4 linked regions of the Homo sapiens genome follow. The protein of the gene in region 3 purifies or fractionates together with the protein of the main gene of each other region. This does not show direct contact. Each region holds a gene or a part of one and is shown on either strand. Other genes may lie near its edges.

The links.
Region 1: the proteins of HNRNPD (region 3) and HNRNPF fractionate together in Homo sapiens (co-fractionation; 3 studies listed by BioGRID, with this or other methods). This does not show direct contact.
Region 2: the proteins of HNRNPD (region 3) and HNRNPR purify together in Homo sapiens (affinity purification with mass spectrometry; 4 studies listed by BioGRID and IntAct, with this or other methods). This does not show direct contact.
Region 4: the proteins of HNRNPD (region 3) and FAM120A purify together in Homo sapiens (affinity purification with mass spectrometry; 2 studies listed by BioGRID and IntAct, with this or other methods). This does not show direct contact.

The regions. Positions count from the first base shown.
Region 1 is NC_000010.11:43,398,032-43,406,318, reverse strand, and holds part of HNRNPF (heterogeneous nuclear ribonucleoprotein F), read left to right. Parts: intron 1-8,287.
Region 2 is NC_000001.11:23,333,104-23,341,390, reverse strand, and holds part of HNRNPR (heterogeneous nuclear ribonucleoprotein R), read left to right. Parts: intron 1-370; coding exon of another isoform or gene 371-382; coding exon 383-539; intron 540-2,782; coding exon 2,783-2,901; intron 2,902-3,529; coding exon 3,530-3,637; intron 3,638-7,759; coding exon 7,760-7,873; intron 7,874-8,287. UniProt on the Homo sapiens protein: Component of ribonucleosomes, which are complexes of at least 20 other different heterogeneous nuclear ribonucleoproteins (hnRNP). hnRNP play an important role in processing of precursor mRNA in the nucleus.
Region 3 is NC_000004.12:82,351,450-82,357,730, reverse strand, and holds the end of HNRNPD (heterogeneous nuclear ribonucleoprotein D0), read left to right. Parts: intron 1-286; coding exon 287-418; intron 419-835; coding exon 836-935; intron 936-1,047; coding exon 1,048-1,194; intron 1,195-2,329; coding exon 2,330-2,397; 3' UTR 2,398-2,427; intron 2,428-3,576; 3' UTR 3,577-5,233; downstream 5,234-6,281. UniProt on the Homo sapiens protein: Binds with high affinity to RNA molecules that contain AU-rich elements (AREs) found within the 3'-UTR of many proto-oncogenes and cytokine mRNAs.
Region 4 is NC_000009.12:93,454,536-93,462,822, forward strand, and holds part of FAM120A (constitutive coactivator of PPAR-gamma-like protein 1), read left to right. Parts: intron 1-8,287. UniProt on the Homo sapiens protein: Component of the oxidative stress-induced survival signaling. May regulate the activation of SRC family protein kinases. May act as a scaffolding protein enabling SRC family protein kinases to phosphorylate and activate PI3-kinase.

The sequences.
Region 1 (8,287 bases), on a different chromosome or scaffold from region 3:
GTAAATAGAAAGTTACTTCTCCCACGTGGCCAGAACCTTGGAAAGCCTGGAGGCAAATGAGAGCCCGGTGGGGGTAGATGCCTGCAGGGGCTGCAGAAATGTGACAGGCCCTTTCCTTGGAGGTGACTTCTCTAATTCCCTCTCCCCCACTGAGCTCTGGTTCTCTGCTCTTCGGGAGAACCACATTAGTTGACTCTTACTAGGTCCTAGAAGTTTTACTCCATTTTCTAATTACATGCTCAGGACTACTCCAGAAGGGCTTGCTATTAGCCCCATGTTTCAGATGAGAAAATGGAGGTTGGGAGAAGTCATGTGTCCAGGGACACAATTGGGACTTGGGACCCAGTCCCAACTGGGTCCCAAGTTGGACCGGGACACCCCTCCCCTGCCAGGGCCCTTGCCCTGTCTTAGTTGCCCTGAGCTACGGTTCTTGTGGAGGGCAACAGGGTGGGCAGAGGGAGAACTGAGCTCAGCCAAGACCGCCCTGGCTTATTTTACAGCAAATCCCAGACCAATAAGGTCTTTATTAATAAATAAATCCGCAGTATTTCTAAGAACTTTTAAAACCTAACCATGATACTGCTGTCATGCCTAAAAATACATTCCAAAATATCAAGTATCCAGGGTTTAAGTGTTTCTGTATTAAATTTTTTTTTTTTTCCGAGACGGAATCTTGCTCTTGTCACCCAGGCTGGAGTGCAGTGGCACAATCTCAGCTCACTGCAAACTCCATCTCCCGGGTTAATGCCATTCTCCTGCCTCAGCCTCCCGAGTTGCTGGGACTACAGGCGGCCGCCACCATGCCCGGCTAATTTTTTGTATTTTTAGTAGAGGCGGGGTTTCATCATGTTAGCAGGGATGGTCTCGATCTCCTGACCTCGTGATCCGCCGGCCTCGGCCTCCCAAAGTGCTGGGATTACAGGCGTGAGCCACCGCGCCCGGCATGTATTAAATATTTTAAACAGCTGGTTGGTTTGAGTCAGGATCCAAAGTCACACCTTATATTTTGTAGATAACTTTTTAAATTCAGAGCAGCACTGTCCAATAGAAATATAATGTATGCTATAAATGTAATCTTATATTCTTTAGTGGTAAAAGGAAACATGATTCATTGTATTAATAATTTAACCTAATATATATCCACTACTATTTTGCATGTAATTTTAAAACACTTTTTCATTTCTCCATGATCTTGACTAAAATAATTAAAAACAAAATCCTGTGAACTTGTCAAAATCCAGTGTGAGTTTTACACTTACACATTTCAAGCGTGGTGAATGGATGCTGTGTAAGTGATCATCTAGAGGTTCCCCTTTCTTAAAAGGCTCCATCCCCCGTTATATTTGTCGGGCTGTCTTGCAGCATTCCTTCCCCACACTTCGCATTTTTCTGATTGTTTTTCCGTGGTGGTCTTTGAGTGTCTGTTCTTTATATTTCCTGTAAAGTGATAGTTACCTCTAGAGGTAGTTTTTGGTTTTGGTTTTATTTTTGTTTTTGAGACGGAGTTTTGGTTTTGTTGCCCAGGCTGGAGTGCAATGGTGTGATCTTGTCTCACTGCCTCCTGGGTTCAAGCAATTCTCTTGCCTCAGCCTCCTGAGTAACTGGGATTACAGGGGTATTTTTAGTAGAGACGGAGTATCAACTTGTTGGTCAGGCTGGTCTCAACCTCCTGACCTCAGGTGATCCACCCGCCTCAGCCTCCCAAAGTGCTGGGATTACTGGTGTGAGCCACCGCACCCAGTCTGGAGGTAGTTTTGATTCAGATGAGAGTTTTTGGAAAGAAAACTTACTTGAGGTGCTGTGCTCCAACCGGAGGCACATATTGGTTGGTATCTTCTCTTTTGTCATGTTACAGCAGCTATTAATGATCATTATGTAGATCCATTATTTTCTTAAATGGTTTTCAAATTAGTGATATTTTAATAATCGATTCCTTTTCATTTATTAGCAGGAATACTTTTTCATGTGATCGCTCTAAGATGTACTTTTGTTTTTGTTTTCCTTTTTTTTTTTTTTTATAGACGGATTCTCACTCTGTCACCCAGGCTGGAGTGCAGTGGCAGGATCCAGGCTCACTGCAGCCTCCGCCTCCTGGGTTCAGGCGATTCTCAGGCTCGTGAGCAGCTGGGATTACAGGTGTGCAGCACCACCACGCCCATCTAATAGTAGAGATGGTGGAGTGGCAGGGGGTGGGGGGTTTCACCATGTTGGCCAGGCTGGTCTCAAACTCCTGACCTCAAGTGATCCACCTGCCTTGGCCTCCCAAAGTGCTGGGATTACAGGCGTGAGTCACCCACCACGCCCAGCCCTCCACATTTTTTTTTTTCGAGAAAGGGTTTCACTTTGATGCCCACACTGGAGTGCCCTGGTGTGGACAGAGCTCACTGCAGCCTCAACCTCCTGGGCTCAGGCAATCCTGCCTCATCCCCCCAAGTAGCTGGGATTACAGGTGTGTGCCACATGCCCAGCTATTTTTTTTTGTATTTTTTGTAGAGAAGGGGTTTTGCCATGTCGCCCAGGGTGGTCTCCTGAGCTCAAGTGATCTGCCCACCTCGGCCTCCCAAAGTGCTGGGATTACAGGTGTGAGCCACTATATATGGCCTCAGTTCTTCCTTGACATAAATTCAGCTTAGCATTTCTCATAAAACATTAAAAAAGTACCTCTATACTTTGTCTCCATTGATACATCAGTATGAGAAATTGCAGTGATTGAGTTTGAAATGATCAACTACACTTGCATTCCTGAAATCCAACTTGGTCATAATATCGCTTTATATATTGCTGGATTAGGTTGACTGATACTTGGTTTGGACTTTTGCATCTGAGTTCTTGAGTGAAATTAGCCTGTGATACTTGATTAATTGTAAAACTCTTTTGGAAATGAAAAAATCAATTCCAAGTTCATTGTAGATGTAAGTGTAAAAATTTAGAGAAGAACATCAACGCTTTGTAAGTTCAGATAACTATATGGGCTGGGGCTAGGAAAAAGATCTCTTGAAAATGACACAGGCTGGGCGGGGTGGTTCACACCTTTAATCCCAGCAGGGCCAAGGCAGGCGGATTGCTTGAGGCCAGGAGTCCAAGACCAGCCTGGCCAATGTGGCGAAACCCCATCTCTACTAAAAATACAAAAATTTGCCAGGTGTGGTGGTGTGCATCTGTAATCCCAGGCTGAGGCAGGAGAATTGCTTGAACTCAGGAGGTGGAGGTTGCAGTGAACCGAGAGTGGAATGATGGTTTGAGCTCAGGAGTTCAAGATAAGCCTGGGCAAGATGGCAAGACCCTATCTTTTCAAAAACAGAATTTTTAATTAGCCAGGTATGATAGCGAACACTTGTAAAGACATAGAGGATGCAGTGAGTTGTGATTGCAGTACTGCATACCACCCTGAGCAAGAAAGCAAGACCCCGTTTAAAAAAAAAAAGCCATCATAATTAAGAAAAGGCATGACAGATTAAGACTCCTATTAGATTTATCCTAACGGTATGCCTCCTGTTAGACAAAATGCTTCACCTAATACAAATACAGATACTCTTACTTACTGTTATATCCCGATAAATCCATCATAAGTTATTTGATTAGAATAGTGCCATCTAATAGAATTATGATGTTTATGACAAATACATATCTTTTCTAATTTAAGTTGGTGTTAGATACCATATACGATCCTCTTAAAGTACATAGAATTCAGAAGTTAGTTTTCTTGTGATGTTTTTGTCTGGTTTGGTAACACGTTGTATTAGTATGCTAGGGCTGCCATGCAAAGTAATACAGACTAGTAACAAATTTTCTCACGGTTATGGAGGCTAGAAGTCTTAAGATGAGGGTGTTGATAGGGTTGGTTTCTTTTCAGGCAGGAGAAATAATGTGAATAGTAGGAATTCCAGAAGGAGAAAAAGACACAGATGGAGGCAGCAAGAGAAGCGATAAAGGATTAGAAGTGAATTTTCCTGGCTTAAGATCCCTGTAGTTCCCATTAGGATATTTTGAAAAGACACAGCACAGGCGTGTGTTGGTAAAACTCCTAAAGTATAGAGGAAACTGCTTTGGAAAAAGTATGTCCTCCAAATCTCTTATCTTCTCCCCCATTGTTTCTGTTTTGATGTTTATTCTACTTCGTTTTCCTTTCTTTGAATTCATTACTAACTTTTAAATTTAAAACTCAGTTTTAGTTCCAGAAAGTTTTTTTTTTTAAGTTTTGTAATGGAGTGGTATCTGAAGTTGCTCTTTTTTTCCTGTTAAAATCATTATGGTTTTTGTCTAGCACTTCTTGTTCCCTGAAACCTGAGGTGTGGTATGTTATTTCTGGGTGCCGGAGCCCCTCTTCTGTAAATTGTCATGTTCCTTTCCTCCTTCCATCTCTCTGTTCTGCACAATTCCCCCAAGGCAGAATGCAGTGGTCCCCTGGGCAGCACAGCTCAGGGCCAGCAGTCTCAGCTCAGGGCCTGCTGCTTGGAACCTGACTAAGGTGTCATGTTTCCATGGAGGCTTCAGGAAGAATTCCCATCCCAAGGAATGTACCTTCCTCAGGGGGCTGAGGATACCCCACAGGCCTCCTTTCTCTCCAGCTCCAGGGTTTGACTATGCACCTATTTAGGGGCTGCTTGCTCAAGGGAGAGAGGTACAGGAGGTGGTCTGGGAAAAACAAAATTGATCTTCCTATCAATTGTATTTTTGTTTAGCGGAATCTATACACACCCATTTCTTTGGATATTATTTCCAGTTACTCCAGCTAATCCAAATAATGATATTTGCCCTCAGTTAAGAACAGATTTTATTTTTAGGAACAGAAGTCTAGTAGCAGTTTTGCTTTTTATTAACGTTTTAAGGAACATTTACCTTAGATATCATGATTCTTGGGCATTTGCAAAATGCAGTCAATATCAAACAGCAATGGTTGCTTGTTTTATGATCGGTCAGAATTTGTCCCTTATATTAATTTCAGTACAAACAGTATAGATAAAATTTATCTAACATTACATTATACTACTCTTGATGCTTTTTAGTAACACAGCTTTTGAGAAATGAACGCTGAGGGAAGCAGTGTGTTATCCCCCCAGACTTAGCTACAGCAAGTAAGTGAAAGGACCTGATAGATGGTAATGGAAAACAGCTTTCCTGTTGCATGCAGATCAGGACAGATCCCCTTTGGTGGATATAAATGTAGTAATAATGGAGTAAACATTTAAAATGTTAATATATGCTCCATCTGCAGCTTCTCAGTCTTTTTTTTTTTTGAGACGGAGTCTCGCTCTATCGCCCAGGCTGGAGTGCAGTGGTGCGATCTGGGCTCCCTGCAAGTTCCGCCTCCCGGGTTCACACCATTCTCCTGCCTCAGCCTCCTGAGTAGCTGGGACTACAGGTGCCTGCCACCACGTTTGGCTAATTTTTGTATTTTTAGTAGAGACGAGGTTTCACCGTATTAGCCCTCCTGACCTCGTGATCCACCCGCCTCGGCCTCCCAAAGTGCTGGGATTACAGGCATGAGCCACTGTGCCTGGCCACTTCTCAGTCCTTAATAGCTTTTAGGATAGCTCTGTGTATTGAATTTGGCACGTTGTGTGAATTGGGTTAGAATTCTCACACTTCAGATACATGTGCCCCTGAAAAGTTAAGTACAAATGTGTGCGTTGGTGCATTTTTTTAAATGGAATTAGTGTCTTGTATCATAATTCTTGAGTTCATGACAGCAGGAAGTACTTAAGAGTGACTGAATAGGAATTTTATAAAATTGCTGGGTTGGAAGATACTTTTGAGGCCATTAAACCCAATTTTCAATATTTCCAACAGAAAAGGAAAACATCCATAACAAATATGGTCTATGATCTGCTCACATACTATATACCATGATGGGGAATTTTTGCCCCCAAGATGCATCTTGTGCTTCTCATGTGGTGAACAGACACGAGCAGCAGAAGCTGTGTCCTAAAATTTCTTCAATCTAAAGGATTCACCACGAAATAAGAATATGAATACAAAGCATCCAGCACCAAAATGTATCCCAGTAAAGGGCTTTGGTAAAAAATATAAATAATTTGAACAAGTGTCCAGAGGGGAGATAATGTACAGAAGGAAAAAAGAATAATGGGCTTTTAACTTCTTTTTTTTCCCTCAGTTTTTATCTTTTTCCTATATAGAGATGGGAGTCTCACTATACTGCGCAGGCTGGTCTCGAACTCTCTTGGGCTCAAGTGATCCTCCCACCTCGGCCTCCCAAAGTGCTGGAGTTACAGGCTTGAGCCACTGCTCCTGGCCAGCTTCTACTTTAAACCTCAGCTATTTATCAAGGAAAAAAGAATTTCCCTTCTTTCTACATGAAATTCATCACTCAGTGTTCCCACTCACCCATGCTCCTGTCTGTTTAAATGTCACTTCCTCAGAACCCCAATCTGAGCTAATGCCTATTTTCTGTTTTTCGTTCATTCTAAAATTTGTCATCATATATTTGTACATTTCTTGATTTCCTACTCCACTGTTACTGGACCCACCAAGGCAGGAACTGTGTCTCTTTACCACTACAGTTCCTGTATCTTTTAGGTGCGTAGTATTTCTTGGTGAGTCAGTCAGTCTCCAGACTCAGTCATTTTTCTCTACATTACACATTCTTTCACATTCTTCTCCCACCAGTCTTCCTAGACTTGTTTCATTCCTTCCCATCTTGTCTCCATGTATCTCTTCCCACCATTCATTTTCCAGATAGCATCTAGACTGTTGTGTTAAAAAGCAAAACTCCTTTCACACCACATTCCATTAAATGCCTTCCCACTGGCCTTTGAACACCAAACCAGGCCTTTAAGGCTATGTCATCTCCTACCATTGATCTCAGACCTAGCTGCAGTTGCACAATACAACCCCTGGCTCAAGTCTTCTGCACACATTGTTCCCTCACAGGCAGGAACCCTATGGTGACTGATCAATAATTAAAACTTGCCTTGGGCCAGGCACAGTGGCTTATACCTATAATCCTAGCACTTTGGGAGGCCAAGGTGGATCAGTTGAGCCCAGGAGTTACAGACCAGTCTGGGCATCATAGAGAGACCTTGCCTCTACTAAAAAATTAAAAAAAAAATTAGCCCGGCTTGGTGGCATGCACCTGTGGTCCCAGCTACGTTGGGGAGGCTAAAGGTGGGAGGATCATTTGAGCCCAGGAGGTTGAGGCTAATGTGCCTGTCACACAGATTCAACAGTTACTAATCATGGACAGTTATTCTCCATCTCCCCACCTACTACTTTGTGGACAACTTCAAACAAATCCAAGCCATCACAAATATTTCAAGATGGATTTCTAAAACTTAATTGCTTTATTTTATAACATAACCATAATTCTGTGGGTTCTTTTATCTGGCTGGAACTATTCTGAGGTAGGACTGGCTCATTTGTCCTTGTAGTTTCCCACAGTCTACATCACTATATGCAGTATGTTACTGTTCCCTGTAATTCGTGTTATTTAGTAAGTGCATTCTAAAGACTTGCTTTCTCTCAGTTTTACAAACAGTTGTATTAGCCGGGTGTGGTTGCATGCCAGTGGTCCCAGCTACTCAGGAGGCTGAGGTTGGAGGCTTGCTTGAGCCTGGGAGGTTGAGGCTGCATTGCCATGATCGTGCCACTGCATTCCAGCCTGGGCAGCTGAGCCAGACCCTGTCTCAAAATAATAATAATTCTGTTAAAAACGTAAAACAGGCCGGGCGCGGTGGCTCACACCTGTAATCCCAGCACTTTGAGAGGCTGAAGTGGGTGGATCACAAGGTCAGGAGTTGAGACCAGCCTGACCAACATGGTGAAACCCTGTCTCTACTAAAAATACAAAAATTAGCCAGGGTGTGGTAGCGCACGCCTATAATCCCAGCTACTCAGGAGGTTGAGGCCAGGAGAATCGCTTGAACCTGGGAGGGGAGGTTGCAGTGAGCCGAGATCGTGCCATTGCACTCCAGCCCGGGCAACAGAGCAAGACTGTCTCTCAAAAAAAAAAAAAAACAACAACAACAAACTCCAAACAGGCCGGGCATGGGGCTCGCACCTATAATCCCAGTACTTTGGGAGGCCGAGGCAGGGGGATCACGAGGTCAAGATATCGAGACCAGCCTAGCCAACACGGTGAAACCACATCTCTACTAAAAACAAAAACTAGCTGGGTATAGTGGCATGGGCCTATAGTCCCAGCTACTCGGGAGGCTGAGGCAGGAGAATCGCCTTAACCCAGGAGGCAGAGGTTGCAGTGAGCCAAGATCATGCCACTGCACTCCAGCCTGGGTGACAGAGTGAAAACTGTGTCTCAAAAAAAACCAAC
Region 2 (8,287 bases), on a different chromosome or scaffold from region 3:
TTTAAAACTGTGTAAGACCCGAGAGCTGAGGGGCTTTTTAGTAAAGGATTTTGTAGTGATTTTGATCTTTTCACCAGGACAGAACAGCTGCTTTTGTTAATCAGCAATTCTACCTTCAGTAAATTAAAGCCTTTATCTTACCCGGTGTACATGAAGTTCCTTAAAGATCTAATGCTTCCATGTACATTTTCTATGGTTTTACAGGATTATTATTGCCAATTTAGGTCAGATACATCACAGGAGGAATAAATTATTATTTTGATAGAGGTTATTAGCAGCATGTATACAAATTAGTTTAGATAAATCATGCATTGTCCTACAAACTAGTTATTTCTGGCTTAATGTAATATAGCTCCTGAATTTTTTCCAGCAGCATAATAAAATGGCTAATCAGGTGAATGGTAATGCGGTACAGTTAAAAGAAGAGGAAGAACCAATGGATACTTCCAGTGTAACTCACACAGAACACTACAAGACACTGATAGAGGCAGGCCTCCCACAGAAGGTGGCAGAAAGACTTGATGAAATATTTCAGACAGGTATAATATGCATTTCTTGTTTCTGACTGGTTATGAAAGTGAGGGCAAACCACTTTGAATTTTATAGTTTTTTAAGGTTAAATAATACTTATTGTTTCTGATCTGTAGAGCTGAATGTTTGTTACTTTCCCTTCATTGAAGGCATATTGGGTTTGACTTTGATACTCTTATTTCATTATTTTGAAGCCTTCTTAGTGTTGAATATGCAGTCTTAGTTGTTTCAGAACAGCACATCGATTTGTCTTAGATTTACCACCCATAAAAATGTATGTTTCTGCATACCAAATTTTACATTTTTTTCTTAATCAAAATCAGTCATCATTTTGCTTTTGCTTTTCTACTTTTACCTTCTTAAAGTGATTGTTAAATCAGCTTAGGTCTGATTAGGTGGCATAACAAGAGGATAGCTGTATCGTCTGAAACCATAATAAATGTCAGACTCCTTGAGAGTTTGTGGCTTGTCTAGTTTCTAATAGAAATCCACATCTCTCCGTAATTTGGAAGTGTTTGGTTGTAACAGCTGCTTCTTTTTTTTTTTTTTAATCCAGAAGTGCCATGGTTAAGTGCTTAAGCAAATTTGAACATCTTAATATAGTTGGTTGTAAGTGGTTTGAAGTTTTAAAGAGGGAGAGAAATATTTACCCTTAGGGAGCGTTGTTCATAAATGAATGTGTCCTCCTCCTTTGGGGACATAGATGGAAACTTTCTTCCTCTGTGTTGTGTGTGCCTATTCAGATTCTGAGAGAGAATTGAATTGTCTCACTCACAAATGTGTCTTAAGTACAGTAGTAGCAAATAGCTGTTTTTTTTTTTTTGTCCTTAAAAAATTTTTAAATCTGGGAAGCTTAGCATAATTTTAGACATTAAAATGACTTATAAAAATGACTCCTGGGTCATGGTCGCATTTGAAAATCAGTCCTCAGGAACTTTCTGTGACATTCTGCCATAGAGAATTGGCAGTGATCTGCTTAGAGATGCTCTCTTGTAGAGTGTTTTGTTATTGATAAGAGGCTGATGGTTTGGGCGTAGACTTGGTTTGACAAAATGGATTGATGGGTGTCCTGAGTTGTGGCTTCGGGTGGTGGTATGGAATATTCAAGTGAGGCAGCTCCAGTTATTTACACATGCTCATTTCGAGCTTTTGAAACAAATCATGGCAACTTTTTTAAAAAGTAACTTTGGAAGTGGCATTACATTTATTTAAAATTTACTATATGGAATAAAGTTCTTTTTAGCTTTATCAAAATGGAGTCACTTTTCATGTTCATATGAACTTGGGGGTTTTAATCTACGAAATACTTGCATTTTACGTTGGATCAATTCTGAAATATATTCCATATGTAAATATGACACAAACTTAACAGACTTAAGAAATTATATTTTAAACTTAGTAGATGTTCTGTGTGCAGTTGAATATACTTACATATATGAAATGCAGTGTATATATTTTCTGTCAAGTTTACTTGTAAGACCATAAAGTCTTTATTGCCATTTGAAAATGATTGTCGTTCTTGACAGTCAATGTGAATGCCACAGCATCTTTTAAATCTCAGCTTGTCACTTCAGAAGAACAAAGAATGCCTTAAAGTATGACTTTCAGAATTGATTAATCAAGCTGCACTTGCATTTGTAGAAGTTTAAAATTATGCCTTTCCACATTCTGACTGCAGCAAAGTGGATGCTCAGATAAACAAATGCATTTCAGTTTATCTTTGGTGTTCAGGAGGGAAAGCCTTTTGACACTTTTTGGAGAGTGGAAAGAATTACTTAGTAAAATTTGTTTTCAGATTTTCCTCCACCTCTTAGGTGGTTAGCATCAACTGTAACCGTCTGTAATTTGAAGGTTTATCCTTGGAAAACGCAATGTATTCTTATCACTCTAATATAAACCAAAATTTGTTGTATTAATGCATAATCTGTAATACAGTATGTACATCAGATTTAACTTTCAAGACTTATACCTTTGGGGGAGTGGGAAATGGATGTTAGGATTTGGCGGGGGAGGTTTGTGGATATGGAGATTGAAATTCATGTTTTTGGTTGTTGACATTTTATCTTTATTTTCATATTTGTCCTGGACCTTTCTATGTAGTATTTGGATAGCTGCGTATATGCATATAGTTAAATGAAAATACAGTTTGTTAGTGATCATATTGAATGTAACAATTCTTGATTAAACGTCAGTAGAGCTTAGATTACCCCTTTTGTTGCAATAACGTTACCCCTTTCAATTTAATTTTTAGGATTGGTAGCTTATGTCGATCTTGATGAAAGAGCAATTGATGCTCTCAGGGAATTTAATGAAGAAGGAGCTCTGTCTGTACTACAGCAGTTCAAGGAAAGTGACTTATCACATGTTCAGGTAAGGTCGTTACTCAGAAATGTCTTTGAACAATTAGTAATCTGAAATTATTTTACTATTACTTTTTTTCCTATGGAGAAGTGGTATTTTTTGTTTGTGACTACCTCTTCTTTTAAAAAATTAGTTTAAAGGAAAAAAACTGCTTGTGGCAGAGTTTCAGAAGCCCAAGTATAAAGCAAAAGTTTTCTCCCACCCCCTTGTGCAGTAAGTTATTTTAAAAACTTAAAATTAAAGCCAAGTTTTGATGGTTGTTACTATAGGTTTTTACATGTTACTCAGCTTTTTAACATTTGGGGGTTATTTGATCCTGTTTTATTATCTTGGAGGAAAATGTAGGTGGGAGGAATAGTTTCCGACATCTGGCAAAGACAGTCTAGATACAGTCACATATCAACAAGTGGAAGACTGTGTTTTCCCAGGGTAGAAGGTAAGCTCCCTGAGGTCTATACTGCCTTACTGCTGTCTGCTCCAATCTCTGGCACATAGTAACCACTCGGCAAATACTTGTTGAATGAATCAGTAAATCTTTTGTTAAAATCCTGGTTTTCTGAAATTTAAATTTAATTATGTATCTGACCCTTCAGATATTTTTGGTGATTCTTTTTATTGAATTACTTGTCTGTTCTAGAACAAAAGTGCATTTTTATGTGGAGTTATGAAGACCTACAGGCAGAGAGAGAAACAGGGGAGCAAGGTGCAAGAGTCCACAAAGGGACCTGATGAAGCGAAGATCAAGGTAAAACTTGACTTGGGTAGTTGTAATGAAATTGCATTTAATGATGAGGTCAAATGCCTCTTTCCATGTTTCCTAGAAAGTTTCACTTTTTTTTTTTTTGAGACGGAGTCTTGCTCTGTCGCCCAGGCTGGAGTAGCGGCGCAGTCTTGGATCACTGCAAGCTCCACCTCCCAAGTTCATGCCATTCTCCTGCCTCAGCCTCCCAAGTAGCTGGGATTACAGCCATGCACCACCACACCCAGCTAATTATTTGTATTTTTAGGAAAGATAGGGTTTCACTGTGTTGGCCAGATTGGTCTCGATCTCCTGACCTTGTGATCCGCCCACCTCGGCCTTCAAAGTGCTGGGATTACAGACGTGAGCCACCACGCCCAGCTGAAAGTTTCACTTTTCAAAACTAGTGTTTAGAAATGAAATAATTTAGAGGAATTACATAAGAAGGATAATTTTGGGGATCGACACTCAATTGCATGTTTAATGAAAAGCCCTAATTCATACTCTTCCTCATTCCCTCTTTTGTGGCCATGAATGACGTATATTTATTGATGCTTCGCTGGTAGTTTCTTGGATTGATCCAGTAATGTCTCTTGGTTCAGTTATTTTCCAGCCACTTTGTTTCTTTTCTCTTGATAAAAAGGTTATAACTTGATAAAAAGTTGTTATAACTGCTTTCCTCCTTTTGAATATTCAGTTACCTCAGTTTCTTTATTTATAAAATGGGGATAGTAATAGTGACTACCTTACAGAGTTATTGTAAGGAGTAAATGAATTAACATATATAAAGCACTTAGAATAATGCCTGGAATGTAGCAAGAACTATATAACCATGAACCATTATTATTATTACCATTTTATTACTTAGATAAACAGCTTTGAAAAGGTAAATATACAGCTTTTAATGAAAGACCAGTGAACCTAATTCCTTAGTTAAATGGATACTCGTGTCTTGCTGTAGTGACATACTTTTCTTTTTTTTTTTTTTTTTTGAGACAGAGTCTCACTCTGTGGCCCAGGCTGGAGTGCTGGAGTGCAGTAGCGCCATCTCAGCTCATCTCAGCTCACTTCAACCTCTGTCTCCTGGGTTCAAGCGATTCTCCTGCCTCAGCCTCCTGAGTAGCTGGGACTACAGGCGTGCGCCACCACATCCAGCTAATTTTTTTTTTTTTTTTTTTTTTTTTTTTTGAGACGGAGTCTCCCTCTGTCGCCCAGGCTGGAGTGCAGTGGCGCGATCTCAGCTCATTGCAAGGTCTGCCTCCTGGGTTCACGCCATTCTCCTGCCTCAGCCTCCTGAGCAGCTGGGACCACAGGTGCCTGCTACCATGCCCGGCTAATTTTTTTTTTCTTGTATTTTTAGTAGAGACAGGGTTTCACTATGTTAGCCAGGATGGTCTCAATCTCCTGACCTCATGATCCGCCCGCCTCGGCCTCCCAAAGTGCTGGGATTACAGGCGTGAGCCACCGTGCCTGGCTGCTAATTTTTTTTGTTTTTTGGTAGAGTCGGGGTTTCACTGTGTTAGCCAGGCTGGTCTCAAACTCCTGACCTTGGGGGATCTGCCTACCTCACCCTCCCCAAAGTGCTGGGATTACAGGTGTGAGCCACCATATCCGGCCTGTGATAGACTTTTTTTTTTTTTTTTGAGACGGAGTCTCGCTCTGTCGCCCAGGCTGGAGTGCAGTGGCGGGATCTCGGCTCACTGCAAGCTCCGCCTCCCGGGTTCACGCCATTCTCCTCCCTCAGCCTCCCGAGTAGCTGGGACTACAGGCGCCCGCCACTACGCCCGGCTAATTTTTTGTATTTTTAGTAGAGACGGGGTTTCACCATTTTAGCCGGGATGGTCTCGATCTCCTGACCTCGTGATCCGCCCGCCTCAGCCTCCCAAAGTGCTGGGATTACAGGCGTGAGCCACCGCGCCCGGCTGTGATAGACTTTTTAATTAGAAATAGTTATTGTATGTTGAAGTTATTTCTATTATTATTACATTGTAATATGTAATGAAATAATTATACAACTCACCATAATGTAGAATCAGTGGGATCCCTGAGCTTGTTTTCCTGCAACTAGATGGTGCCATCTGGGCATACTGGTAGATGGTGACAGATCTTCAAGCATTAGATTCTCATAAGGAGCATGCAACCTAGATCCCTTGTATGCACACTTCACAATAGGATTCACCCTCCTGTGAGAACCTAATGCGGCTGCTGATCTGACAGGAGGTGGAGCTCACAGCTCAGGCAGTAATGCCAATGATAGGGAGGATGAGGAGCGGCTGTAAATACAGATGAAGCTTTGTTCTCACTTGCCCGCTATTTACCTCCTGCTATGCAGCCCGGTTCCTAACAGGCCATGGACCAGTACGGGTCTGTGGCCCAGGGGTGTGGGGACCCCTGTTTTATATTACATTTATGGCTCTGTTTCAGTCAAAGGTAGAAGAATGGAAGGCCGAAGGCATGCATCCCTGTGAAATCCTAGTGTTCACTGAACTTGATGATATCTAAAGTCTCTTATTGTTCTGACATTGTGTAATTTTAAAAACCTGGCTGGGCTCTGTGGCTCACGCCTGTAATCCCAGCACTTTGGGAGGCTGAGGCGGGTGGATCACGAGGTCAGGAGATCGAGACCATCCTGGCTAACAACGGTGAGGCCACCTGTCTACTAAAAATACAAAAAATTAGCCGGGTGTGGTGGCAGGCGCCTGTAGTCCCAGCTACTTGGGAGGCTGAGGCAGGAGAATGGCGTGAACCCGGGAGGCGGAGCTTGCAGTGAGCCAAGATCGCGCCACTGCACTCCAGCCTGAGCGACAGAGCGAGACTCCGTCTCAAAAAAAAAAAACCAAAAAAACTGAAGTGTAAATTTCTCTTTTCTAGGTAGATTGTGTTTCTTTGTTTACCATTGTATCTTTTCTTCTCTAAGCTCTTTATATAGATGTTGCCTCAATTATAACATAAATTCCTGAGAGCAAGGAGATTATCTTCTTTTCTATGATTGCTCTTAATACCTAATAGAATGTAAGGAAGGTTGGTAATCAGGAAACACAAGATTTTACTTATTTTTCGGAACCTGACTATACTTATTTGGTAATTGCCAAATATTTTTAGTCTGTACTGTATGATTCTTGTCTGATTACCTGATTCTTGTGGAGCTTATGATATGGCAGGAGTACAAACCAGAAGGATCAAACAAAATCAAGCTTAAATGATGGAACTTTAAGTACACTAGAGGCTGGGTATGGTGGCTCATTCCTGTAATCCCAGCACTTTGGGAGGCCAAGTCGGGTGGATCACGAGATCAGGAGATTGAGACCATCCTGGCTAACACGGTGAAACCCTGTCTTTACTAAAAATACAAAAAATTAGCCGGGCGTTGTGGCGGGTGCCTGTAGTCCCAGCTGCTCGGGAGGCTGAGGCAGGAAAAGGGCGTGAACCTGGGAGGCGGAGCTTGCAGTGAGCCGAGATCGCGCTACTGCACTCCAGCCTGGGTGACACAGCGAGACTCCGTCTCAAAAAAAAAAAAAAAAAAAAGTACACTAGAAAGACAGTGGGGGCTGGGCACAGTGGCTCACACCTGTACTCCTAGCACTTTGGGAGGCCAAGACAGGCGGATCTCATGAGGCCAGGAGTTCCTGACCAGCCTGGCCAACATGGTGAAACCCCATCTCTACTAAAAATACAAAAATTAGCTGGGCGTGGTGGCACATGCCTGTAATCCCAGCTACTTGGGAGGCTGAGACAAGAGAATCTCTTAGACCCGGGAGGCAGAGGTTGCAGTGAGCCGAGACGATGCCACTGCACTCCAGCCTGGGCAACAGAGCAAGACTCCATCTCAAAAAAAAAGAAGAAAAGACAGTAGGGAGAAATGGATGTGAGTAATAGTAAATGAGAGAAGCTGCATGAAGGAGGTAAGACTTGTGCTAATTTTTTTAAGGATAGAGAACATTTTATTTGAAAAGACTCACCAGTAGAAACATGTATGGGGAACCAGTGCGAATTTTGACTTTTTTTTTTACCTAACCATAAAAATATATCTCCTAGGAAGTTGGAGTCCTTTTTGGAAAAGATTAATACACTGATGCTTGTGTGTGAGATTTAGTACTCAAGTATAAAGAGATGTATAATTATCTCTAGGCCTTGCTTGAGAGAACTGGTTATACTCTGGATGTAACCACAGGACAGAGGAAGTATGGTGGTCCTCCACCAGACAGTGTGTACTCTGGCGTGCAACCTGGAATTGGAACGGAGGTAAGTGTTCTTTAGCAGTTTACCAAGATCTTTCCAGTTTGGAAAGTGTTTTATCTACTATGCAGATACTGTACAGACGGGGGAAAATTCTTGATCCCTTTCAAAGTGTAGCTGTTGTTAGTTTTTAGATATCCATTTGTATTTTGCTGCCATCATGAGGATGGATAATCTTGTGACTGGTAGATACCCGAACACTTTATATAGGAATATAATATAGAGTTTTTGGAACAGGTTGCTAAAACCATGCTACTAGCAGCACACCATTTTAGATACTTGGAGTAAAGTTATTTGGAAGACGCAATTGCTTTATTCTGTCTTTTTTTTTCCCCTCCCCTGAGATGGAGTTTCGCTCTTGTTGTCCAGGCTGGAGTGCAGTGACACGGTCTCAGCAAACTGCAACCTCGGCCTCCTGGG
Region 3 (6,281 bases):
CTTGTTCTTTGTGGGCATTTGAATTTGTGACCCTTGAGTTAGGTAGTAAATGTCAGTGCGTGGTAAAGCTTATTTTTGTAAATAGTTGTGAAGACCTTAGATGGAATGGGTGTTCTAATTTGAAGAATTCCTTAAAAGGATTAGAATAAATAGGGAGAAACAGGAGACTAGAACTTCAGTGCCAAATACATGTTTTCTTTGTGTGTTTTCCCCCCTCTAAACTTGTGTTTCTTTTAAGGTCAATAAAATGCATGTTAGCATATTAAAATTTGTTTTTTAATACCAGGTGGAATCCATAGAGCTCCCCATGGACAACAAGACCAATAAGAGGCGTGGGTTCTGCTTTATTACCTTTAAGGAAGAAGAACCAGTGAAGAAGATAATGGAAAAGAAATACCACAATGTTGGTCTTAGTAAAGTAAGTTAAGCATCCATTTACTTGTAGAGAAAACTAGCTGTTGTAAAGAGCTTAACCATTTATCTTTCTCTGTAAAGGCTTAAGTTCTTTGCATGCTTTAAAAACTTCTCATTGGTTACTTACCATTGACCAACTTTTTGTGGGGAGCAGGATGGACACATTTGTTAGTGTTTTTGTCTAGGCTTTCACAAAAATAGTTTTTAGAACTTGACAAGTAAAATGAAGTAACATCACTAGCAAGTACTCATAAGTGATTACTCTTAAGTACTAAATATTGGTTTAATTAATAAACTGACTGAGGAAAGTTTCAAATTAGCCTACTCTATTTAAACATGTTGGCTATTCTGGTTATTAGAAACTTATTTAGCAACTTTTATTTTCTTGAGTCAGTTTAATAATGTAATTTTTCTCTTTTAGTGTGAAATAAAAGTAGCCATGTCGAAGGAACAATATCAGCAACAGCAACAGTGGGGATCTAGAGGAGGATTTGCAGGAAGAGCTCGTGGAAGAGGTGGTGGTAAGCTAGAGCCTAAGTTTACTCTATCTTAAGCTTTTCTGCTTTTTAATTATCCTGAAGTAAAGATCTTTGCTGATCTTCTGACTTTAGTGAACCTATTAATGTGCTGCAGGCCCCAGTCAAAACTGGAACCAGGGATATAGTAACTATTGGAATCAAGGCTATGGCAACTATGGATATAACAGCCAAGGTTACGGTGGTTATGGAGGATATGACTACACTGGTTACAACAACTACTATGGATATGGTGATTATAGCAGTAAGTACTATACTTTTTATATTAACTGCTATTTGACATTTATTTTGTACAAATTTGGATAGGCAGAAAGGTTAGTGTAGCCTTGCCAAGTGCAAATGTCTTCAGGTTTCAAATTCCTGGAAACTTGAAACTGCAGCCATTTTATTGCTTGGTTCCTCCCAGCCTATATCACACACACATTATAAGGGTAGGGTGTATGTGTGGTTCTATATATGTTTGCTGGGCATTTGTTTTACTTGGATTTAAAAATTTTAAGCTCAGTTCAGATCTTTTAAGCTCAAGGTATTCTAAATGTCACTTCTTGGACCAACCAATAATCTTGGCATGATGTGTCTTAATCCTATAAAACTGAATAATACCACATGTTGCCAGTTAAAACTAATAGTATCCTCGCTTTAGGATTATTAATGTAGAAACTCTTAAAACAGATGTTGAGCTTGATAGAACCAAAAAACTTGACTTTTAGACATGGAAAGCCCTGACTTCATTGTGCAACTAAGGTAGTTGCTCTCCACCTGATTTGTAGCAACTGTTGAGTCGTCAGGTAAAGGGTTCTACTAGAAGCAATCTTACATTTTTTTGGAGGAGAGTGGTTGCATTGGTTGCATTGTTTTAAGTGGTTTTTCTTTTCCTTCCTTGGTTAGACCAGTTCTTGGAGTTATATCCTTTCTTAGGTGACTAGGCCTGCTGCACAATAATAGGTTAATTAAAGTCAGAAGAAGGTCAGCAAAGATGGATTGGGTGAGATTGGGGCCCTTTTCTTAGAAGGGCAGAGATACTAAGCACTGATTGTGGTTGACAATTTGTTCTAAATTTTAAGATATTTTTTGCTGGTGGTTGTGAAAGGGTCAGCTGTCCATCCTTTGAAACTTAAAACTTTTAAACTGTAAGGGTGAGGGGATTGTCTCCCATTTTATACAATAAGTCAAGTAATCAGCTCATTCTGAATGCCTGCCATTGTATGCATTCACTACATATTTGGTAAATTATTTGATAAATGATTGCTCAGGGTGAATTTTTCACACTTGGGAATTAAGCTACCCTTAATTTTTTGAGATTGTTTAAAATTAGGTACTGTTCTGATTATTAGTATGTAACCACTACCGTTCTGGTTCTAACACTTGTTTTATTTTAGACCAGCAGAGTGGTTATGGGAAGGTATCCAGGCGAGGTGGTCATCAAAATAGCTACAAACCATACTAAATTATTCCATTTGCAACTTATCCCCAACAGGTATGTTCTAAAAATAGTTTTTTTTTGTCATTTACAATAGTAGTTTTTATAATCTATATTGTTCATAAAACAATGCTTAATTTAAGAGTTTCACAGCACCCAGAAGTGCTTACCATATTATAACATAGTGACTTTCAAAGATATGTAACACAGGTGCTCTTAAGCTTTTGCCTTTTTGTCCTATTATTAACAAGTCAGTAAAGTTAACAGGTAAAGTACTGCTAATGGGTACAAATTAAGGAATTGCAGCAAAAAAGTATTGCCTACTAACTCTGACATTATACCTTGTTTGTACCCGCCAGCGGGAACTTCATTGCAGGCCCTGTGTCGCGCTGACTTCACGATTCTCACAGGCCCGCTCAATGCGGACAGGGTACGAGATGCTCACGCTCTCGAATGCTGCCGTTTGGTATGGTCTCTTCCAACATCCTGTATCAGCATTATAAAATAAAATGGATACTTCAAGCTTTGCCTTCACTTATTTCTTTGCTTTTTAAAAACTATTTGTAATGTAATTTTAATGCATTTTTTACAGGCCCAGTAATGGTTAAATACGTCAGCTTACTGAATAATTTTAACTATTTATTCTTCTAAGGATACAGCTTGTCTCTGGATTTTCCAGTCTTAATTTTATATTTTATTAATCTATTTTAATGCTTGCTTTTCCCATTTATAGACGTTGTAGCAGTAATTGCAAGAAGTTCTTGAGCTGAATTCCTGTTGTGACAACTTCCTATAATTACAGTAGATAACTTTTTCTTTTAGTCGTATATAACTTTTCTATAACTTGTGATGGACAAGAGATATGCTTATCCAATAAAATAAGCTTAAATATTAGATGCTCTTGGGTCAAAATGTCCTTTTACCAAATTGACCTTTTTATGAGTTCTTTGGGTAAATACTTTAAAGCTTTTTATATTTTAAAGAATACTTGTAAAAGCATATCACATCTTAAACCAGTGGTGCACATGTGGATTTACAGCTCATGGACTCTACTGTTCAGCTTTAATTTATAAAACATATCACACATTTAATGTTATACAGTATTTACATATAGTGGAACATAGGGATAACTCAGTTTTATGTAAATTTTTGTTAAGTGTTGTAGCCTGCCCAGAGTGACTTCTATTTTTTCTTCTTTGTCTCCAGGTGGTGAAGCAGTATTTTCCAATTTGAAGATTCATTTGAAGGTGGCTCCTGCCACCTGCTAATAGCAGTTCAAACTAAATTTTTTGTATCAAGTCCCTGAATGGAAGTATGACGTTGGGTCCCTCTGAAGTTTAATTCTGAGTTCTCATTAAAAGAAATTTGCTTTCATTGTTTTATTTCTTAATTGCTATGCTTCAGAATCAATTTGTGTTTTATGCCCTTTCCCCCAGTATTGTAGAGCAAGTCTTGTGTTAAAAGCCCAGTGTGACAGTGTCATGATGTAGTAGTGTCTTACTGGTTTTTTAATAAATCCTTTTGTATAAAAATGTATTGGCTCTTTTATCATCAGAATAGGAAAAATTGTCATGGATTCAAGTTATTAAAAGCATAAGTTTGGAAGACAGGCTTGCCGAAATTGAGGACATGATTAAAATTGCAGTGAAGTTTGAAATGTTTTTAGCAAAATCTAATTTTTGCCATAATGTGTCCTCCCTGTCCAAATTGGGAATGACTTAATGTCAATTTGTTTGTTGGTTGTTTTAATAATACTTCCTTATGTAGCCATTAAGATTTATATGAATATTTTCCCAAATGCCCAGTTTTTGCTTAATATGTATTGTGCTTTTTAGAACAAATCTGGATAAATGTGCAAAAGTACCCCTTTGCACAGATAGTTAATGTTTTATGCTTCCATTAAATAAAAAGGACTTAAAATCTGTTAATTATAATAGAAATGCGGCTAGTTCAGAGAGATTTTTAGAGCTGTGGTGGACTTCATAGATGAATTCAAGTGTTGAGGGAGGATTAAAGAAATATATACCGTGTTTATGTGTGTGTGCTTATTTGTTTGAATGATTTTATTTTCCATTTCTCAAAGGTTTTATTTTTTTGGTTAGGGCCTTAAAATTTCAGGACTGTGATTATTAGTATGTGTGCCTAAGGAACTTTTTGAGTCACTCTTAAGAAAGTGAAACTGAAGAGTCTAAGTGATAACTATAGGATTAAGTCAGAATTGTTTTTCCTGTCATTTGTTGGAAGCTTCTTGAGTTCTGTTATTAGCATTCAGGGAATTGATACCCATCAACTTGAATGGAAAATCGTTTGTAGGTATTACTTAAGTGAATGTTAAGAGTTCCACCCTGAGTGGTAATCTAAGGCTGTGCAGTCAGTTACTTCAGACTGCTCAGAATAGTTCATTAGAAAGGTAACAAATGAGAAATGTATTATTATACAGTTCTATAGTAGTGAAGTGATGGAATACCTTTCTTACTTTTGTGGAGTTACATCTGATGCTAAGAATTTGACCTCCAACTAAGCAAACATTTTAATGAGCAAAAGTTAGTGTTATTAAAGTTTTTTTATGATAGATCCAAATTGAGGACCTGTGTCCTGTTTTTATAAGATTGCAACCCAGCTATGCTCATTTGTTTATGTTTTGTATATGGCTGCTTTTGTGTTACAGTGGTAGAGTTTAGTAGTTAGGACAGAGACCTGCAAAGCAAAATAATTTACAGTCTGGCCCTTTACAGAAAAGTTTGCTGACTCATGGTCAAAATAAATGAAAATTTTTTGTGTTAGGGTTGTTAAGCTAGGGTTCTTTTTGGTATCATATGCTTATTTTATGTAAATCTCTCAATAAAAAATTATTTTTAAGAGACAGGGTCTCCCTCTGTCGTTCATGCTAGAGTACAGTGGCTCACTGCAGCCTCCAACTCCTGGGCTCAAGTGCTCCTCATTAGCCTCCTCAGTGATTGGGACTACAGGCGCATACCACTGTGCCCAACTAATATTTTTATTGTTTGTAGAGACAGGGTCTTGCTATGTTCCCCAGGCTGGTCTTGAACTCTTGGCCTCAAGCAATCCTCCTCCTCCTTCGGCCTCCCAAAGTGCTGGGATTATAGGCATAAACCACCGTGTTCGGCCTTCACATCAAAAACTTTATAAATGTGCGGGGAGGGGGTAAAAACAGATTGAATTAAAACCAGGTTTAGTGTGACTAAAAACATGCTACCAGATTAATTTTGATTGTTGTGTTAAAATGTTTACAAGCTGCACTTTTGGCAGTTAATTAGTACTAAATGAGAGACACTACTTAGATTTAATTTTAAGGATTAATTTTGGAGATCAAACCCATTCTTGAAAAAAACTTGTAACCCGATTTTTGTACTGTTTTGTTTCTGTATGTCTGACTCATTTAAATTGCAATTCTCAGAGCCGTTTCTAGCAGTACCTCTTGGCCTAGATAATTTTCTGTCCAGCAGACACTGATTTTCAAACGGTAACAAGAATTGAAAAAAGATTTTTTATATACATTAATTTGGTAATTAGTTTCATGTTTTTCTTGATGGTTTTCTGTGTTCTAATCTGAACTGTTTGCCCTTTTTGAATTGTTGAGTAACTGTTGAGTTGGGGCTTTGCCATTGTTCTGGGTTTCCCTTTGCCTCTCAATTTATGATCTGTTTCCTAGATCTATGGCTTTGTTGGTTTGGTGTAGGATATCTTCCAATAGGTTAGAGACCTTCCTGTCTGTAAAGTTCTATTTTGCATTGGATTACTAAGTTTAGCTATGTAGAGAATTCAGGTTTGGTGAAGAAATTTATTTTATTTGTTTTTGAGACAGCATCTCACTCTGTTGCCAGGCTGGAGTGCAGTGGTGCGATCTCAGCTCACTGCAACCTCTGCCTCGTGGGTTCAAGCGATTCTCC
Region 4 (8,287 bases), on a different chromosome or scaffold from region 3:
AAACTCAGCTTGAGAAGAGGATGAAGAGGAGAGTCTGCCAGAGGCAGGAGCACCATTAATAGCAAGAAGTGACAAGAGAGATTTAAAAAGCTATAAAAAGCAAACATAATTCTGGGGCTATTTTAAGAAAAGGAAAACAACCCTATGTACTTCCTTGGTCCCTGAGGGTAGTACAATGTTTATTCTATAAGGATGATTTTGAGTCATAAAAATTAATATTCAGCATTCTCTGTTTAAGGGATTGAAACAGTGTATACCATTTAATAAAAGATACCCATAAAGTGGTTAAAACGTTTAAAACCATGATATCACTACATGCCTATTAGAATGGCTAAAAGAGAAAAAAATATGAGCAATACCAAGTGCTAGCAAGAATGCTGAGCAACTGGATCCTTACACATTGCTTGTGGGAATGCAGAATGGCACCACCACTCCAGAAAACAGTGGCACTTTCTTATAAAGTTAAACATACATTTATCATACGATCCAGCAATTCCACTCCTGGGTATTTTCCTAATGAAGACTTTTGTTTGTGCAAAAACTGGTACTCAAATGTCCATAGCAGCTTAATTCATAATAGCCCAAACGTGGAAACAAAGTATCCTTTAATAAGTGAATGGTTAAACTACAGTATAGCCATACTATGGAATACTACTTAGCAATAATAAGGAAGGAATTGCTGGTGTAGGTAACAACTTGCATGAATATTTAATTAAGGTTTTATACTGAGTGAAAGAAGCCAGGTTCAAAAGGGATGATTATAAAACTATAGTGATAGGGACCAATTCAGTGGTGCTGAGAGTAGAGGAGGGGAAGGATGTACACATAAAGGGGACAGCAGGAGAGATCTTTGTGGAGTGATGGAACTGTTCTGTATTCTGATGGTGGTGATGCTACCATACATTAAAATCAGAACTATTCATCCAAAGTAAATGTGTTAATTTTATCATATGATAATTTTTTTAAGATTAAGTAAAAACCACTGGCAAAGGAATTGACATGAACAATTCAGTATATATAATGTTGAGTAAATGAGACATTTATAAAAACTTTAAGCATCTTATTGGTGCTTTCTAGTGTTTTGTAAATTGGCAGAGGGGCATAATTTCCTGTTACCTTTGCTTAGAGAAATCTTTTTTTTTTTTGAGATGGAGTCTCACTCTGTCTCTCAGGCTGGAGTGCAGTGGCGCGATCTCGGCTCACTGCAACCTCCACCTCCTGGGTTCAAGCGATTCTCCTACCTCAGCCTCCCTAGTAGCTGGGATTATAGGCGCCTGCCATCATGCCTGGCTAATCTTTGTATTTTTAGTAGAGGCGGGGTTTCACCATCTTGGCCAGGCTGGTCTTGAGCTCCTGACCTCGTGATCCACCTGCCTCGGCCTCCCAAAGTGCTGGGATTACGGGCGTGAGCCACTGCGCCTGGCCAGGAGAAATCTTTTTTGATTTAGAGATTATTTCTTTTACAGAGTAGTAATTGTATTTTTTTGTTCAGTAGTAGTAATTGTATTTCTTTAACCATTAGAAGTTGGTCTACATGGAAAGACAGCCAGAACAATGAAAATAATAATACTTTGGCCTATGTATTGACTAGTTTTGTGTAGGTCCTAAAATAGCCTAATTTGAACTTGGCTTTAGCTAGTTACTTGGACAGTGTTTCTTCTTGTGTGCCTTGGGTCATTATAACCTTTGAAACTTCAGTGAATGACTTATGTTTATTTTAAAATCTTAGTGGCATGAAGTCACTGGAGCTTTCATAAATGTTTCTGCTATATGACTTGTGGTATCAGTGTAAGGGTTTATAATAAAGTCCTTCAGATCTTCTGAATTTGCTTCCATTGGAATTTTGTTAAATAATGCTCTTACATAAAATGGCGTTCATGCTATAAGTCAGTGGAAGAATGTGAGGTTAGACTATGGTTTAGAATTTTCATGGTTAGCATAATTACATGTTTGTATTTAGAGATGATGGTCTCCCTTCATGTATACTTGATGGGGGAAGAGAATGAACTGGTATCAGACCAGGTGCTTGCTAGATCCTTTCTCACATATTCCATCTCATTTAATCCTCAGAGTGCTTTGTTACCCCATTTTTCATGTGTAAAAACAGGATCTAGTGATTAAGTGACATCTGGGGACAAGTCATTAGTAACCTCAAGACGGAAGTGGAGTGCTAAAGTCAAAGTTCAGCTTCTTTGTGTAAGAATACTTTGTGGGTGTGCCTACCTACAATTCTCACCCCCAGGTCAATTACGATAGCTAACTGCTTCAGCTATGTTTTCTAGTTAGGATAGGAACAGTCATGTTGCTATTCAGAAGAAAAATGTCCATCAGTAGATCCTGGACACTGACAGTACATCTTATTCTTAAGGACCTTTAATTGACTGGAAGATTTTTAAGGTTCAAAACTGACCATATTATACCTCAAACTAGTCACTGTATATATTTCTCTGTTGTACTACTTTTGTCACTAGTTTAATTCACATAGCATAATGTCTTCAAGCTTCTTTCATGTTGTAGATTGTGTCAGAATTTCCTTAACTTTTAAGGCTAAGTAATACTCCACTGTGTATATGTACCACATTTTGTTTATCCATTCATCCACTGGTGGATACTTGGGTTGCTTCCACTTTTTGACTATTGGGAATAATGAATAATGCTTCTATGAGCATAGTATACAAAGAGCTGTTCGAGTTCCTGCTTTCAGTTCTTTTGGGTATATACTCAGAAGTAGGATTGCTGGGTCATATGGTAATTCTGTTTTTCTTTTTAAGGAATGGCCATATATTTTCCACAGTGGCTGTGTAGGCCATATATTTTATGTCATAAGTTATATAATATATATTATTATAATATAGTTCCATTTTTTCACATTAATGTGATTGCACTATACGTTATTCAGCAGTTTGCTTTTTTATTTGTAAGAAATCTTTCCATGTCTATACTTAGAGCTCTAAGTCTTTTCAGTCCCTAAATAGTATTCCATAATTTATCCAACCCCGACAGATGGTATACACATGATATATACACACAGTAGAGCTAAAGGTATGCACATTTTAAAAGCCACGTAGGACCATAGAGTCAACATTACCAGAACTTCAGACTTTGCAAGAAAGCCAGAAACCCAGATTTTTAAAAAAATTATTCCATTTTAAAAATGCCAAGCGAAGGAAAACTTGGTTCTAAGTTAGCTTCAGCTCTTGTGCCACCAATTTGTTATTTGAGCACTGATCTTTATCAACAATTATCATGGTCATCTAAATCTCTTCCTTTTTTTTTTTTTTACTTTAAAATTAAACCTATCAAAAACCACTCTGTCTTTTCCTGTCTGCCTCCTTGAACCTTTTTCAATGATCAAAATGCTTCCATTTCCTGGGGTTACTGCAATATGATGTTTCCTTAAATGCCACAATCCTCTTGGCCACTTCCATAGTATATTCTTCATTATATACTTCTCAATATTACATATTTTGAGGTGAGTGCTAACCCACATGTTTATTTGACATCTCACCATTTCCAAGGCACAGCCTCACTGTCCTCAAACACTTCAGCACCTGGTTTTACATTCTTATATATTATTTATACTGTGTCCCATCAACACAGACACTGACTCTTCACCTCTCTCATCTGGCATCCTGATTCTGCAACTGGAGTGAATTTCTAATTGCACTTTAGATACTCCAGAGCTTGGACCGTATAATTAGTGAGAAAAGTGACCCCACCTTTAACACTTCTGAACGCTGTGTCCCTGTCACTCCTTGCCGCTCCCACCGTCTGTCCCCTGCTTGCCTTCCGCCATTTCTCTTTTCCCATTCTGTTGGCTTCCTTTTTAGCTGTAACTAGCTTGAACTTCATGATCATTCACTTCAGAGTTACACCCTCTACCACCATAGAGTCATGCTTGGTATTCCAGCATCCCATCCTCCCAGTCCCTAGAATAATGACACACCAGGCCAATTCTGGCTCAGTAGTCTCCTACTTAACTGTTATACTCTTCCTTTTTTCCAGTACCCCCAACATTTGAATTCACCATATTTATCCAAAAGGTCGAAGAAATGCTTTGCAAACCCTTCAGTGGGTTGTGAAACCAAATTATTGGATGTTTGCCATTACTTAAAAATAACGGAGTAAAATAGAATGAAAAATAGAATGCAAGGCATATACTATAGGTAAATTCCATGTCATTACACTTTTGTATTACTGTGGGTAGCAGTAAGAATGGCCTCTGCACCTACCCCCGCGCCCCAGTGGAACTAATCTTGCACAGCTTTGGCAGGGTAGACGGCCACATCTTCAGGGAGGTCACTCTCCTGTTGGGACTTGAACAAAACCATTAAGTCCAAATTCCTTATTCAGACTTGTAGACCTTCCTGCGACCTGAACTCATTTGACCTTACTTAATGTTTCACAATCCCTCTACTGTACTTTTTAAAATGTTCCCAACCCAACTGGTCACTATTTCCCCAAGAAATATCCAGTTTCTGCTTATGTCATTCCCTCTTGTTTAACTACTGTACTGTGTCCTACTTTTGCTCATCAAAATTTTACTTACACTTCAAAGCCCATGTCAAATGCCAGCCTTCTTCATGGAATCTCTTGATATTTGAAAAAGTGGACTGGGAATACACACACAGCATGGTGTATGTTTGCAGTGGACATTCTAGTCTGTTGTATTGCACCTACCTGCATAACTGCATATTTACCTCCCCCAGCCACCCGTAGGCTCCTTGAGGCCAGGGACTGTTTTACTCCTCTTGTACCCCATTATGCTTAGCATAGGCACTCAACTCTAATCAGAATATTTGCTGCATTCCATTATATAGCCAGACAAATTAAATTATTTCAAAATCTGGATCAATGGCCATTACTTAAGTTTTGTTTTGTTTTTTTAATCTTAAATTTCTCATACTCTCTTTTCTGACTGGTTCCCAATGGTGATTGATTCTCCTTTCAGCAAATGTTTGAGCACCTGTTAATGCCCAGGCCTGGAGGAGTGAACAGAACAGGAAAGGAAGGAAACCTTCAGGGAGCCTATAGCCTCTGGGTTGAGGAGGTTCATTTAAATCCTTTTTTTCTTGTTTGGAACTTTCTTTAATACTGTAGAACAATATGTTTACTCAGTGAAGACCTGTGAGTGGCTCTCAAGTAGGGTTGACAGTTGAGACATTTGGCAGGGGACATTTGGCAGTGCCTGGAGGCATTTTTGGTTGTCACAGCTGGGGGAGGATGTTAACTGAAGGCATCTATTGGGTGGAGGCCAAGGATGCTGCCAAACATTCTACAGTGCACAGAACAGCCCCCATAGCAAAGAATAATGTGGCCTAAAATACCAGTAGTGCCAAGGTAAGGAAATCTTGGTATGAGCAAATCAAAGAATTATAAGCTTTATGCCTTTGTAAAGTCATATAAATGTTTGCGATAGAGATGTCCAAGTACACCAGGAAGAAAGTAATCAAAACTACAACTTAATTTTCTGAATCAAAATACACGCAGGTATACTTCCTCCTATGTCTAACATGTTTAGATCGACATTGTTCTTCATTTTAGTTTTCTGAAATTTATATGAATAGGAAGAAACTAATTAACACATATTACACATTCCAACCTTAATAAGCACTACACCATAGGAATAAATGTCAAATATCGCGTAACATGAAGAAGAGAGATTTTAGGATTTGAAAACTTAGACTACTTTCCAGTAGATTTATAGGCAGAATTTTCTAAATAAAACAGGCATTTAAATGAATCACAGTTCAGATAAAAATATTCTTAAATTATCTAAATGTCTCCATATAGTTCATCGTTTATTTCCTTTTCGCTTTTTTTTGAGATGAAGTCTCACTCTGTTGCCCAACCTGGAGTGCAGTGACACAATCTCAGCTGACTGCAACCTCCACCTCCCAGGTTCAAGTGATTGTCCTGCCTCAGCCTCCCAAGTAGCTGGGATTACAGGCACGCCATGCCCAGCTAATTTTTGTATTTTTAGTAGAGACAGGGTTTCACTATGTTGGCCAGGCTGGTCTCGGACTCCTGACCTCGTGATCCACCCGCCCTGGCCTCCCAAAGTGCTGGGATTACAGGCATTAGCCACTATGCCTGGCCCTATTTTTGCTTATTTTTATGTTTTCTCTAGAAGTAAATCTGATGAAGACCTTGCCTGTTATCCAGCTCTTAGAGCGATGCTTGGTGTGTAGTACATGCTCAGAAAATATTTGATAAATGGATATGAATCACCAGTTACAGGCAAGGAAGTGTGATGGCAGAAAGATGGTAGGAAGCAGAAGTTTTAAAGTCCCCCTAGAGTTAATTCCAAAATCACTGGTGTCAGCTTGGCCACCTGGTGCAGAGCTTTTATCTTTGAGTAAACCTTTTATGCTTCTTAACTTAGGAGATGTGTTGAGGGCATAAAATGGGTGACTGCTTCAGGAAATGGGCTGCATTTAGCCACCTTTCCTCTTGTTACACCTGGCTTTATCACACATTGTTTCTAGGCATCTTAGGGGACAGTGTAAAAGAGTTGAACTTGACCCACTGCAGTATTTGTAGAGGTGATGGTCAATCTGCATTATGGAGTTTAGGATCTGTGATTTAGAAACGGTACTTTTATGCGCCAGTCATTTGGCATTTCTCAGTTGTCTCTGGAATCAATTAACTTTCTTGAAAGGATGAATTTACCATGTTGGTGTTTTACTGGTTAGTGCAGGAAAGTATACTAGAGGGTTTATTGCTGGAGGGTTGACTTCACAGGTCTGAAGTACATCATTCATCCTCTGAGGTAGAGCACATTTATGAATAGTAGTAACAAGCCAGCCCAGACTGTTGGAGGGGGTCACTAGACTCCATGGATGAGGTGTTTTAATTTCCTGGACCTATGAAGAGTTTGCAAGTGTTACTATCTTGAAATAAATAGTATCAACCTGTGGTTCTTTTTCCTAAATTATGAAAATTGAAATTTTATGTTTTAGATTTTGGAATGGTATTTTAATAAGAATGATATTACTAGGATTTAGCTGAGTCATTAGATTACTAGAGTAGGCTAAATAGATTCTGAATACAAATAATGTGTGTGTTTCTTCCTTTTATCATTGTATTTTTTTATTTTTAAAGTTTGTAAAGTTTAATTTGCATTTCTTTTATGACATCACTCCTTTATTATTATTAATATTTTTAGAGGGAAAAATCAAGCAGTTTTATAATTCGAACATCCCAAATCTGAAATGCTCCAAAATTCAAAACTTTTTGAGCACCAGCATGATGCACAAAGGAAATGCTCACTGGAGCATTTTGGATTTTTGATTTTTGAATTTAGAATGTTCAACTGGTAAGCATAATAACAAATATTCCAAAACTTGAAAAAGCCTGAAATCCAAAACACTTCTTGTCTTAAGTGTTTCAGTAAAGGACACCTAACCTGTATTATTGAATAACCATTGAACCAGACTGTGATCACATCACAAGCAGTGTGTGCTAAAGAGATTGCGAAAGCCAAAAAGAAGTGTCACCCTTTGATACAGCCTGGCAGATACAAACTATTACATACATCCTAATTGTCGTTAATCAAAGGAAAAGGAAAACTCTGCCTTTTTACAAGTAGGAAGTTAATTTTGGAGCCAAAGCACCTAGGCCTTCTGAGAAGACAGGGAGATACCCTTCTTTTTATTATTATTGTTTCTTAAAATTGTGGTAAAATACACCTAACATAAAATTTACCAATTTAACCATTTTTAAATGTACAGTTCAGTGGCATTAAGTATATATATTTTTTTGAGATGGAGTCTCGCTCTGTCACCAAGGCTGTAGCGCAGTAGCGTGATCTCAGCCCACTGCAACCTCTGCCTCCCGGGTGCAAGCAGTTCTGCCTCAGCCTCCTGAGTAGCTGGGATTACAGGCGTGCGCCTGCCACCACACCCAGCTAATTTTTGTATTTTTAGTAGAGACAGGGTTTCACCATCTTGGCCAGGCTGGTCTTGAACTCCTGACCTCAAGTGACCCACCACCCTTGGCCTCCCAAAGTACTGAGATTATAGGTGTGAGCCACCACGCCTGTCCCCGGTGGCATTAAGTATATTCACATTGTTGTATAACCATCACCACCATCCATTCCCAGAATTTTTTCCTCATCCCAAACTGGAACTGTGTACCCACTAAACTGTAATTCCCCATTTCTTCCATGCCCCAGCTCCTGGTAACCACCATTCTCCTCTCTGTCTCTGAAGTTGTCTACCCTATGAGCCTCATATAATGAGATCGTATAGTATATGTAATTTTGTGTCTGGTTTATTGCATTTAA